Homo sapiens: one gene and its partners. The protein of the gene in region 4 interacts with the protein of the main gene of each other region in a pairwise test. Each region holds a gene or a part of one and is shown on either strand. Other genes may lie near its edges.

Evidence for each region. Proteins that work in one complex are often made in the same cells at the same time.
Region 1: the proteins of PRDM14 (region 4) and CHEK2 interact in a two-hybrid assay, tested with the Homo sapiens proteins (one large-scale study listed by BioGRID and IntAct).
Region 2: the proteins of PRDM14 (region 4) and BCAR3 interact in a two-hybrid assay, tested with the Homo sapiens proteins (one large-scale study listed by BioGRID and IntAct).
Region 3: the proteins of PRDM14 (region 4) and TXK interact in binary tests that used the Homo sapiens proteins (3 or more experiments, as listed by UniProt).

What each region holds. Positions count from the first base shown.
Region 1 is NC_000022.11:28,689,821-28,693,320, forward strand, and holds part of CHEK2 (serine/threonine-protein kinase Chk2), read right to left. Parts: intron 1-3,500. UniProt on the Homo sapiens protein: Serine/threonine-protein kinase which is required for checkpoint-mediated cell cycle arrest, activation of DNA repair and apoptosis in response to the presence of DNA double-strand breaks.
Region 2 is NC_000001.11:93,561,241-93,564,039, reverse strand, and holds the end of BCAR3 (breast cancer anti-estrogen resistance protein 3), read left to right. Parts: intron 1-1,620; coding exon 1,621-1,799; 3' UTR 1,800-2,299; downstream 2,300-2,799. UniProt on the Homo sapiens protein: Acts as an adapter protein downstream of several growth factor receptors to promote cell proliferation, migration, and redistribution of actin fibers.
Region 3 is NC_000004.12:48,089,251-48,092,750, reverse strand, and holds part of TXK (tyrosine-protein kinase TXK), read left to right. Parts: intron 1-2,926; coding exon 2,927-3,001; exon of another isoform or gene 3,002-3,110; intron 3,111-3,500. UniProt on the Homo sapiens protein: Non-receptor tyrosine kinase that plays a redundant role with ITK in regulation of the adaptive immune response. Regulates the development, function and differentiation of conventional T-cells and nonconventional NKT-cells.
Region 4 is NC_000008.11:70,057,753-70,061,252, reverse strand, and holds part of PRDM14 (PR domain zinc finger protein 14), read left to right. Parts: intron 1-2,410; coding exon 2,411-2,613; intron 2,614-3,500. UniProt on the Homo sapiens protein: Transcription factor that has both positive and negative roles on transcription. Required for the maintenance of embryonic stem cell identity and the reacquisition of pluripotency in somatic cells.

The DNA.
Region 1 (3,500 bases), on a different chromosome or scaffold from region 4:
CAGGAGATGAGGAGGGCACAGACAGTGTGTATGCGAGTAGCTCCCACCTCTCTGGATGCTCACTTCTGCAGGGTTCGAGGATTTGCATTAGGAAACCCTGAGAGGTGGTCTGGTGCAGCTCTCCCCATCTTCAGCAAGGTGAAAGGAACATCCATAACTAGGAATGTGGCCTTTGAGTGCTGGCCAGAAGCCCAGCTCAGCCACTCACAGGTGGCATGTGCAGAATACAGACCCAGAGTTATCTGATTCCAGTGCCTCATGTACTTTCCCACCCAACTCCAGCCCCTCCTCCCACTGAGCCAAGCATACCACAGTGGGGAAAGGGAGAGGATACAGTAAAGTCCTCCACCATTTGGCAATTTGATGGATATGGAAATTTTACAACACTAGGTTGGGCATGGTGGCTCATGCCTATAATCCCAGCACTTTGGGAGGCCAAGGTGGGAGAATTGCTTGAGGCCAGGAATTTGAGACCAGCCTGGGCAACATAGTGGGACTTCGTCACTACAAAAAAAATTAAAAATTAGGCCAGGCACGGAGGCTCACGCCTGTAATCCCAGCACTTTGGGAGGCCAAGGCAGGCGAATCGCCTGAGGTCGGAAGTTTGAGATCAGCCTGGCTAACATGGTGAAACCCCTTCTCTACTAAAAATACAAAATAAGCAGGGCATGGTAGTGCACGCCTGTAATCCCAGCTACTCAGGAGGCTGAGGCAGGAGAATCGCTTGAACTCAAGAGGCGGAGGTTGCAGTAAGCCAGGATCACACCACTGCACTCCAGCCTGGGCAAAAGAGTACAACACTGTCTCCAAAAAAAAAAAAAAAAAAATTTAAATTAGCCAGACATGGTGGCATGCACCTGTAGTCTCAGCTACTTGGGAGGCTGGGGCAGGAGGATCACTTGAGCCTGAAAGTCATGGTGCAGTGATCATGCCACTGCACTCCAGCCTAGGTGAGAGAGCAAGACCCTGAGGAAGGAAGAAAGGAAAGAAGCAAGGAAGGAAAAAGGGGAGGGGGGACGAAAGAAGGGAGGGGAAAGGAATGGAGGAGAGGGGAGGGGGAAGGAAGGAGGAAGAAAGAAAGAAGGAAAGAAGGACCAGGCACAGTGGCTCACGCCTGTAATCCCAGCACTTTGGGAGGCCAAGGCAGGGCAGATCACTTGAGGTCACTCTGTTTTGAGTTTCTCAGTGTAGCTCCCCATTGCCATTTGACAGCAGCAAGCTCATCTGGATTCTACTCCGCACCCTCTCACGGCCTTACTTAGGATCTCAATTATCTTGCAGTGTCACTCTCAAAAGTCCATCTCTTGGCAGCCCTTCAGTGAAGCCAAACAGAGTGGTCACAAGCCTAATCAGGCCTGTATTTAAAACAAGTAATCAGGTCAGGCACAGTGGCTCATGCCTGGAATCCCAGCACTTTGGGAGGCCAAGGTGGGTAGATAACCTGAGGTCAGGAGTTCGAGACCAGTCTGACCAACATGGTGAAACCCCATCTCTACTAAAAATACAAAAATGAGCTGGGATGGTGGCAGGCACCTGTAATCCCAGCCACTTGGGAGGCTGATGCAGGAGAATCACTTGAACCCAGAGGTAGAGGTTGCAGTGAGCTGAGATCACACCATTGCACTCCAGCCTGGTAGACAAAAGCAAGACTCCATCTCAAAAAAGGAAATAAATAAATAAACATTGATTTTCTTCATGATGTCTACAATTATTCCAAAATATTAAATTAGCCAGGAACAGTGGCTCGTGCCTATTATCCAAGCACTTTGTGAGGCTGAGGCGGGAGGATCCCTTAAGGCCAGGAGATCAAGGCTGCAGTGAGCTATAATTGCACCAGTGCACTCCAGTTTAGGCAACAGAAGAAGACCTTGTCTCCAACAGTAAATAAAATAAAAATTAAATTGTAATATCCCTTGAAAGTAAACAGAAGAAATCCTCTATTTCAGGCAGTAAATATGAGGCAGAGAGTAGATGTAAGGGATGCTCCCAAAACTGGGCACTCTGTTAATGACAAAACAGAGACCAGAATCCACATTCCCAACACTCAGTTCAGCGACAGACCCACAAAACCATTTGGTTTTTTCAAAAACACTGAATTTTCCCAAAATAAAACCCAAACTATCACTAACAGATGTTTTAGATGGTCAGTCTTCATCCTTGTCTTCATTCAATGCTCATTCCTCCTTTCACTGCAAAAACAAAAGGTGGCTAAAAGAGTATTCCAGGGAGATCCTGCAACAGAGTTGAACTTCACCTTCTCCTTGGTTGTTAATAAGTTTTCTTTGACACAAAAAAGTACAAGAAAGATAGGCTATGCTTGCTCATAAATTTCAGGCAGATGCAAACCCTGTTCCCAGGCTCAACTGGCCAGCTCTATTTTTTGTTAGAGATGAACACAGCTCCTGTACCTCTACATTTAGACCCAAGAGTTTCCCTATTAGGACACATGAAAAGAGCCAAAAGACATGTTTCTCTTTTTCATCAAAATTAAAATCCCCACATGCAAAGGCACCCTTTGTTTCCAAACCCCTTTCCTCCAGGGTCCCACTGTTTCAAATCTGTGTGGTCTATTAAATGCTAAATCATCTGACAGATTTCTTCTGGGGAGACTGTAGTTTCCAGGGCAACATCCAAACACATATATGTCTTTTTTTGTTTGTTTGTTTGTTTGTTTTAAGTTTTTGTTGTTCTCAACCTGAGCTGGCCTGAGCAAAACTGTTAGGTGTAGAGGATTGGAACAGAGAACAGGGACAGTCTTCCCAGAGTCCCAGAAGTACGGGTCGGAGGCTGGACTGCCCAAGGAGTTCCTGGACCAGTAATCCCCAGAGAAACAGCATTTAGCTCAAGTAACAGCCTCTAGCTCAAGCTACCAGTTCTGTCCCCCATCTCCACAGAAAACGGATTGATACAGTTTGGCTTTGTGTCCCTACCCAAATCTCATCTCAAATTGTAATCCCCAGGTGTTGAGAAAGGGACCTGTTGAGAGGTGATTGGCTCATGGGGGCAGTTTCCCCCAGGCTATTCTCGTGATAGTGAGTGAGTTCTCACCAGATCTGACAGTTTCATAAGAGGATCTTCGCCCTTCACTTCCTTCACAAGCTCTCTCACCTGCTGCCATTAAGACATGCCTTCTTCCCCTTCCACCATGATTATAAGTTTCCTGAGGCCTCCCCAGCCATGTGCAGCTGTGAGTCAGTTAAACCTCTTTTCTTTGTAAATTACCCAGTCTTGGGCAGTTCTTTATAGCAGTGTGAGAACAGACTAATACACAAACCAAAAAAAAATTCATAGAAAGGGGCATGTCTGTGCTGAATGGAACTGCTCATTACAGAAGACCAGACATCTATCAGAAAAACCTGCCCAATGCCGTGGCTAATTCTAAAACTAAAGATTAACCCAGCAAAGCCACAACATACTTCCAACTCTTGGCAGTTCCAGATGAGGTCAGCATTTAAAAATGGCAGCCCCAACCCCTAGCAGGAGCACAGCGGTAATACAGA
Region 2 (2,799 bases), on a different chromosome or scaffold from region 4:
GATACCACCACACTATCTAGAATGGCTACAACTAAAAAGAATGATAGGCCAGGCACGGTGGCTAATGTCTGTAATCCCAGCACTTTGGGAGGTCGAGGCGGGTGGATCACCTGAGGTCAAAAGTTCGAGACCAGCCTGGCCAACATGGCAAAACCCCGTCTCTACTGAAAATACAAAAAATTAGCCAGGCGTGGTAGCACACACCTGTAGTCCCAGCTACTTGGGAGGCTGAGGCAGGAGAATTGCTTGAACCCGAGAGGTAGAGGTTGTGGTGAGCCAGGATCGTGCCACTGCACTCCAGCCTGGGCAACACAGCGAGACTCCTTCTCAAAAAAATAAAAATAAAAAATGATAAAACTAAGGGTTGGCAGCATGTGGAAAAACTGGAGTCTTCATATGTTACTGCTGTGAATATAAAATGATACAGCCATTTTGGAATAGAGTTTAATAGTTTCTTTAAAAGTAAACATATACTGATTGTATGACCCAATAATTCCTTTCCTAGAGAAATGAAAACACATGTCCACACAAGATTTGTACACAAGTGTTCACAACCACTTACTCATAGCAGCCAGAAGCAATCCAAATGTCATCAATTGGTGAATGGATAAACAAAAACAATGGCATGTCCATAAAACTGAATATTGATCAGTAAGAATGATTAGCATGCAACATATGGAATAATCTCAAAAACATCATGCTAAGTGAAAGAAGTCACACATTAAAAAGTTCATAGTGGATGATTCCATTTATCCCATATTTCTAGAAAAGGCAAAACAGTAGCAACAGAAAGCAGATCAGTGGTTGACTGAGGTCTGCAGTAGGAACAGGAATTGACTGCAAAGAGGTACTAAGGTGATGGAAGTGTTCTAAGACTGGTGGTAATGGTTTATGTAAAAACTTACCATCATAAATCAAACTCCACAGCCAAAAACAGGTGAATCATATGACATGTAAACTATACATCAGTAAAGTTGGTAAAAACAAGTAACGAACTCCTAGGTACAATGAACCCTCCTTCCCACAGCACTACTTCCCACAGTGGTTTGTACAAACCAATTTCACTCTATTGTTTTTTAATGAGTTTACCTGTTATTTCTTCTCTGAAGGTGCTTAGGTTCTGCAGGGTGGGGCTCTGCTCTCCCTTATATAGAACAGATCCTATATTTTTCTTTGGGGACATTTTTTAAAGTTCTGAGAGAGAGAAGATGTTCATTTTGATGCTACTTTAAGCAAGCTTTCAGTCTATTTTTTTTTTTTTTTTTTTTTTTGAGATGGAGTCTCGCTTGTCACCCAGGCTGCAGTGCAGTGGCGCAGTCTCGCTCACTGCAAGCTCCACCTCCCGGGTTCACGCCATTCTCCTGCCTCAGCCTCCCGAGTAGCTGGGACTACAGGCGCTCGCCACCACGCCTGGCTAATTTTTTGTATTTTTTTAGTAGAGACGGGATTTCACTGTGTTAGCCAGGATGGTCTCGATCTCCTGATCTTGTGATCCACCCACCTCGGCCTCCCAAAGTGCTGGGATTACAGGCGTGAGCCACCGCGCCTGGTGCTTTCAGTCTATTTTTAACACATCTTAGGCAGAACTGAAGTAACTTTTTGTTTATTTTGTTTCATTAGGTTTTCAACCAGATGAAGAAATGAATGAAATCTGCAAGACTGAATTTCAAATGCGATTGCTATGGGGCAGCAAAGGTGCACAAGTCAATCAGACAGAGAGATATGAGAAATTCAACCAGATTTTAACTGCCCTCTCGCGTAAATTGGAACCTCCTCCTGTAAAGCAGGCAGAGCTTTGATAACTCTCCAGAGAACCTTTAGAATATCTTTTCAAGTTTCCCCAGCTTCATCTTTGGGAAAGCTTACTGTTTTTGATAAAGTAATAATGTGCAAATCTGACAATATACAAGCTTTTAGTATCCACAGGATATTAAACGTGTAAATTGCACAGAGCACACTTATTTATGAATTGTCTAAAGTTACTACTGATTTTAAAATGAATAATTTATTATTAAGGTAACTACTGCTAATGTTGATCAGCAAATTTAAGAGAAGACCTAGCTATGTTGGCTGGTTGCTTTCTATTATCATGGTATTTGACCATTTTAGTTTTAATTCCATGTCAGATAAGTGTAAATAGAAGAGTTTAAAAGCATGAAACATTTCAGAAGGTATCAGTTATATGATATTCTTTAAACAAATATGAAAAATGTAAATACTCATGAATGAAAATACATCTTTTTGTGAAACAGTTGTATCCAGTCTCTTTCATATTAAACAACTCATCTTGGTACAATAACTCTACCTCTTAGCTACCTCAAGCATGCTCTTCCCTAGGTACCGTATCCTGATAGTAAACCAAAATGAATGAAAGTGGTATGAAAAATTTAATGTTCCTGGATTAAAAGGCAGAGTGATTGATAGTGACACAAGGTAGAAACAGCTCGAGAGGACCTGGGTTCAAACTCAAGCTATGGTACTTGCTACCAGCTGGAGTTAGGCCAAGTTTACCTCATTGAATTCCATGTGCAGCATGGACACCCAGTATGATGAACATAACATCATCTCTTCACATATTTCAGAGTAATCAACTGTTTTACCTTTTCCTCTAGCTGATAAGTACAACAATGAGTTTCCTAGGTTGGCTTTCTAGGTTTCTCATTTTGCAAAGGGGATACTTTCTAGTTTCTTTCTAGTTTAGCAATATCCCTCTCAACTTTCCCTATTGTACAAAATTTGGAATATAAGACTTTAACGTATTCTGTTACTCTGCCATCAACTGTCAAACTTCTTTTAATA
Region 3 (3,500 bases), on a different chromosome or scaffold from region 4:
CCTTACCTGCCATCCACTGTTCCTTTCTCTCCTGTATCTCTTCCATTCTTCTGACTGTCTCCCTTTAGCTTTTAACCCTATAAACATGCTTAAGACTTTCTTATCCTAAAAACAAAAACAACTCTCCTCCTGCTGCCCTAACTCTTTCTCCCTTTACACATTGCTCTTGTAAGTCACACTTTTGGAAAAATGTGTCCACATCCATTGTCTCCACTCTCTCACTTTCCATTTACTTTTTAAACATCTATGATCTGTCTTCTGCTTTCAACACTCCATATTTGACCAGTGGCCCCTATATTGACAGTACAGTGGTGCTTTCTAGTTCTCATGTGTTCAGGTCCTCTCTGCTACATTTGGCAGTGTCACTTGTTGCTCCTTCGATGTTTGACACCACCCCTTTTTGGCCTTCTCTAACTCAATAGTTCCTAATGGATCTTCCCAATGTGCCCTACTTCTATTCTTCCCTTAAATATTGGTTTTCCTCCAGAATCCGTCCCTGATCACTACTCTTCTCACCTTAGGCATCTCCCTTTGCATAATCTTCTGTCTGGTAGACAAAGGCACTTGCAATCCCGCAGGCCCTGAACTTCACTGATGAAGTAGGATGCTTCATCTTACACCATTACTCTCCCTCCAAATGTCCTCTTTCTTTTCTCTCTCTCAGATAATACTAGCATCATCCAGCCCCTTGTAGGGGTTGGAAGCATAGGAATTAAATAGATGCTTCTTAATAGCTCACTTCTGATTAATTATCAAATGCAATTGATTTCATATCCTAAATGTGTCTCCTATAGATCCCTGCCTCTCCCTACCTTCTAGTGCTGCCCTGATCATTGCTCACTTGGACAACTGCAGTAGCCTCTTAACTGGTCTTATTGCCTCCAATGTTGATTTCCCCTTAATCCATTCTGCTAGTACCAGAGTGATCTATCAGAAATGTAAATCTGGCTGGGTGCAGTGGCTCATGCCTGTAATTACAACACTTTGGGAGGCCAAGGTGGGTGGATCACCTGAGGTCAGGAGTTTAAGACCAGCCTGGCCAACATGGTGAAACCCCATCTCTACTAAAAATACAAAATTATCCAGTCATGGTGGCGCATGCCTGTAATCTCACCTACTCGAGAGGCTGAGGCAGGAGAATCGCTTGAACCTGAGAGGCGGAGGTTGCAGTGATCCAAGATCACACCATTGCACTCCAGCCTGGGCAACAAGAGTGAAACTCCATCTCAAAAAAAAAAAAGAAAAGAAAAAGAAATGTAAATCTGACTGTGCCCTCCTACTTGGGACTTTTCAATAGCTTCCTCTCACCTGCAGGAAAATGTAATGCTTCCTAGCGTGGCTTATGAGTCCCATCATACCCAGAATACTGCTTACCTCTGCAGTGCAATTTGTCTGGCTCTACCTCCTGAGTTTTGCTCAAGTACCCACCATCATGCTTCACATTTCTAAGTTTCATCTCATGCGTTACCTCTGCTTAGAAAGTCCTTCATAGTTTCTCCCCATGGGTTAACTCCATGTGTTAGTTTCATCTCAGTCATTTCCTCCCAAAGAATTCTTCGAGTCCAACAATGTGTCAAGTGCTCTTTTTCTACATCCCAAGGCACCCTATATGCATCTCCAGCAGAATACTTATTCCTTTCACATTAGAATGGCCTCTCTCTGCCTGTCTTCTCTCACTGAGATAGAGCTCCCTGTGGGCAGAGTCCTCATCTTACTCATCTTGGAATCTGCTGGAATCTTTGGGAATCTACCTAGAAGAGTGCCTTGCACACAATAGGCACTTAATATGTGCTTCTTTTTGTTCTTACACTGGTCAAGCTCGTTTCTGTCTTCCAGCATTTACACATGCTGTTCCATCTACCTGGAAGGCTCTTCATCAATCAACGTCAGCGTAGCTGTCATCTTGTCTGAAAGGCCTTCCCTGAGCACCCACTCTAAAGTAATTATATGTTATCCGGTCTGCCTTGCACTTAATCATCATTATCTACTTTTTCTTGTGTGTGCATGCCCTTGTTATTTTCTCTTCCTCTCACTAGAATGTAATCATGAGAGCAAGACCGAATCATCAGTCTTGTTCCCTACTGTCTCCCAACATCTAGATAGTGTTTTATTGAAAGCTTTTATTGAAAGCGCATACCAGGCTTTTAATAAATATTAGCTGAACAAATAAATAATAAATGATTATTAAACTAAGTTGAAACGTAAGGTATATGCCTAAGTGGGTCACTGAAAGGAAAAAAAGAGACATTTGATGTATAGAAATCTATATGTTAACCCAATTAAATGAAGTCTCATTTACTCTACCATGCTATTAAAAATCAAATAAACAAAGATTATACAAAATGGGCACACTTCAACACCGTTGGTGGTTGAATAAATTAGTACATCCTTTCTGGACACGCTTTGACCTGGAAATCACATTTTATAAGGTGATAATTTGAGAAGTACAGACAAATGTATGTTCAAGGACATATGGCATATTTTATAATAGCGAAATCTTGGAAATAAATTTAAGCTCTGTTTATAGTCAATGACATATATCAATTACGTGCATAGTGCAAAAAGCTTTTAACAAAATATTTATATTTCTGCAAAATATATTGGATGTGTTCATGTTTTCAATTATGCACATAGTGATTTTTGCAAAAATATTCACCAAGATGATAACAATCTATCTGTGAATACTAAGATTTTGTGAGGGATTTTTTAGGGTCATCTTTATACTTCCTTAGATTCTTTAAATTGTATACAATGAGTATATATTTTTTTTTGGAAAATGTGGGAAAATAAGCAAACTGCTGACTAACTGGTAGAATGAATTTTGTTTGTCTAATTATTTAAAGAATGGTACTGTCTTCTAGAATATTTCATTCTTTCTTCTATATTAGCAACTAGGCTTGAAATATTGATTTCTCTTTCTCCTTAGGTCTCATGACTCGTCTCCGATATCCAGTTGGGCTGATGGGCAGTTGTTTACCAGCCACAGCTGGGTTTAGCTACGGTAAAGTGTGCACACATGCTGAAGTAAAATAGCAAATCCAGTAGTAAAGAATCTACCTGGCTGGGTGCGGTGGCTCACAGCTGTAATCCTAGCACTTTGGGAGGCAAAGGTGGGTGGATCACCTTAGGTCAGGCGTTCAAGACCACCCTGGCCAAAATGGTGATACCCCGTCTCTACTAAAAATACAAAAAATTAGCCGGGTTTGGTGGTGGATGCCTGTAATCCCAGCTACTTGGGAGGCTGAGGCAGGAGAATCGCTTGAACCCAGGAGGCAGAGGTTACAGTGAGCTGAGGTCATGCCACTGCACTCCAGCCTGGGCAGCAGAGTGAGACTCTGTCTCAAAAAAAAAGGAAAAAAAAAAAAGAATCTAGTTCCCTATTGATTCTTTGAACTCTCAGCACTTCCGAAATGTCTATCTAGAAACATTTCTTCTCAAAGTTTACATCACCCTTCTGAGATGTTTAAATATGTGCATCTCATAAGGACAATTTAAACTTT
Region 4 (3,500 bases):
CTTTATCCTCTGGGATCCAGAGTGTCCTCTGCAGGGATGCTTTTGTAGGTGGCCCCTGTTCTCTCGCCTTCCCCCAACACATAGACACCCCTGGACGTGGGACCTGCTTTGCTAGAGTCTAGCTGCACCCTCTCTAACTTCTCTCCTCCTCCCTCCTCCATTGATAAAAACAGATTTACCTCTCAGTCTTGTCTGCCATTCAGTGATAGTATCACTCACATTGGTAAGACTCGGTAAGTGTTAGAATTAAATTAGTCATCACGGTAACCCTGTGCATTAGGGAAGTCAAGATGCTTTCAACCTTACTCTATACATAAAGATTCTAGCTCTGGAATCTGCCACAAGTTTTGAGTAATGAAGTATAAACTAAGAAGGTCCCTTGAATTGTGTAGAATAGAACAGCACTGTGAGCTGCGGGTGTCCTGGTGACTGCTCTGAGCTTGTAACTCAGGCTGATCTTAAAGGCACAAAGAGAAATAGGTCGGCCTCAGTGCCTCAGTGTATTAACCTTGTAACAAGTGCCAGGCAGGAATGTGTTCAAGAGCTGCAGGGTTGCACTGCCCTTAAATGGGGCTGGTGGAATGGTCTCTTCAACAGTACATATCAAGGAACAAAAGGGAAAGAGAGCCTATAGGTTAAGATATTTAAGAGACATAGCAACCATATACAACATGTAGACTTTGTTTGAAGCCTAATTTGAATGGACTGACCAGAAAGTAATTAAACAAATATATATGTGTGTATATAAATGTGCATATATAAGTACATATATGTTTCTATAAAAGAATAAGAGTTAATCGTTTAGGTATGACAATGTGACAATGACATTATGGTTATGTTTTTTTTTTTTTTTCGAGACAAAGTGTTGCTCTGTTGCCCAGGCTGGAGTGCAGTGGCTCAATCACTGCTCATTGCAGCCTCAACTAACTTCCCCAGGCTCAGGTGATCCTCCCATCTCGGCCTCTGGGACTAAAGGCGTGTGCTATCATGCCCAGATAATTTTTATTATTTTTTTGTAGAGATGGGGTCTTACTATGTTGCCCAGGCTGGTCTCAAACTCCTGGGCTCAAGCGATCTGTCCACTTCAGCTTCCCAGAGTGTTGGGATTATAGGCGTGAGCCACTGCACCTGGCACAATTATGCTTTTTTTTTTTTTTTTGAGATGGAGTTTTGCTGTTGTTGCCCAGGCTGGAGTGCAGTGGTGCAATCTTGGCTCACTGCAACCTGCGCCTCCCAGGTTCAAGTGATTCTCCTGCCTCAGCCTCCCAAGTAGCTGGGATTACAGGCAGGCACCACCACGCCTGGCTAATTTTGTATTTTTAGTACAGACGGGATTTCACCATGTTGGCCAGGCTGGTTTTGAACCCCTGACCTCAGGTGATCCACCTGCCTCAGCTTCCCAAAGTGCTGGGATTATAGGCGTGAGCCACTTTGCCTGGTCACAATTATGCTTTTTAAAAATATGTCATCTTCTAAAGATTACGGTTAGATGTTTTTGAGTCAAAGGATGAATTAGTATTAAAATAATCTACTATGGCGAGCGGTGATATAAATGAAAACAAAATTAGTTACGAGTTGGTCAAAGCTTGGTGTTTGGCACATGAGGGTTTATTACACTATTATTTTCACTTTGGTATGTTTACATTTTTCTGTAATAAAAAGGTTTTTAAAAATTCTCTTGGCGGCCGGGCATGGTGGCTCATGCCTGTAATCCCAGCACTTTGGGAGGCCGAGGCAGGTGGATCACAAGATCAAGAGATCAAGACTGTCCTGGCCAAGATGGTGAAACCCCACCTCTACTAAAAATACAAAAATTAGCTGGGCGTGGTGGTGTGTGCCTGTAGTCCCAGCTACTTGGGAGGCTGAGGCAGGAGAATCACTTGAACCCGGGAGGTGGAGGTTGCAGTGAGCCGAGATCACACCCCTGCACTCCAGCCTGGGTGACAGAGCAAGACTCCATCTCAAAAAAAAAAAAAGAAAAGAAAAGAAAATTCTCTTGACCAGGCACAGTGGCTCACGCATGTAATCCTAGCACTTTGGGAGGCCAAGAGGGGCTGATCACCTGAGGTCAGGAGTTCTAGACCAGCCTGGCCAACATGATGAAACCCTGTTTCTACTAAAAATACAAAAATTAGCCAGGCGTGGTAGTGGGCACCTGTAATCCCAGCTACTTGGGAGGCTGAGGCAGGAGAATCGCTTGAACCTGGGAGGCAGAGGTTGCAGTGAGCCAAGATCGTGCCACTGCACTACAGACTGGGCAATACAGCAAGATTCTGTCTCAAAAAAAGAAAATTCCTCTTGAAGTAGCCAAAGAATTCTTGGCTAAAAATAAATAAATAAATAAATATCCTCTTGAAGGAACTAGGGAGGGAAGTAACTGAAGAGACATTGTGTTTGCTGTGTTTGACAGAGTCTGCAGAAGGCTACAGATGTGAAAGATGTGGGAAGGTATTTACCTACAAATATTACAGAGATAAGCACCTCAAGTACACCCCCTGTGTGGACAAGGGCGATAGGAAATTTCCCTGTTCTCTCTGCAAACGATCCTTTGAGAAGCGGGACCGGCTTCGGATCCACATTCTTCATGTTCATGAGAAGCACCGGCCTCACAAGGTGAGTATTAGGAGGACACATGACCCACCATCACGTTCTCTCTCCCTTCCCAAGCTCCTGAACACGGGGAGTTGCCTTGTAGGTGCTAGCTGCAGGGCTGTGATGCCTGACGGACACCCTCTCTGAAGGAGGAGAGGATAGTATTACGGAACAGGCAGGCGTGAATAGGCACAGCGATGCACATGTGTTAGGATGCAGGTACCCACAGAGGGAGGAACATGGAGGAAGGAGTGTCCACGGCCACCTGGACACGTGGATTATGAAAGATGCACAGAGGTGGCCTTGAGCCAAGTATAGAAGGACAAATGGGGTGTCTGATTTATACTGGTGGCAGGGTTAGTTGGGCAGGAAAGAGTCGAGCTGTTCCAGACAGGAGAGAGCCTGGCATGTGCTCCTGGGGAACTGCGCCTTGTTCCAAATCTGTGCAGGTGTGTTGACAGGTATAGGTAAGAAGGAAGTGAAGGCACGGTCCTTCCAAGGAGCGGAAGGCCTCTACAGTGGGCCGAGGATTTTGTAAGACAGAAAATCAGTAATGACATTACGGAGCCATTCCAAATACCTGGATGCTCTGCTAGGCTTGCTGCAAAAAAGTACAATATTCCCTTGGGCTTAATTAAAAGGAGGACGAGGCTTGGGCACAGATGTATTCTTGCTTGACTGTTGGCCTTGTCGGAACTACCTCAGGCAGCTACGACCTTGAGCCCATTTTCCTGTTTTGAAAACTGAGAATAAAATCATCATAAAATTGTCCTAATTTCTCCCTTCCTTCCTAAGCTTCTGGAAAAGTCATGTTTAATCACTATATTATATACTCCTATAAAATTTGAATACATTTACAGTTATCATGCATTTGTGTAATTCTAAAAGGATTTAAAAATATCAGGACG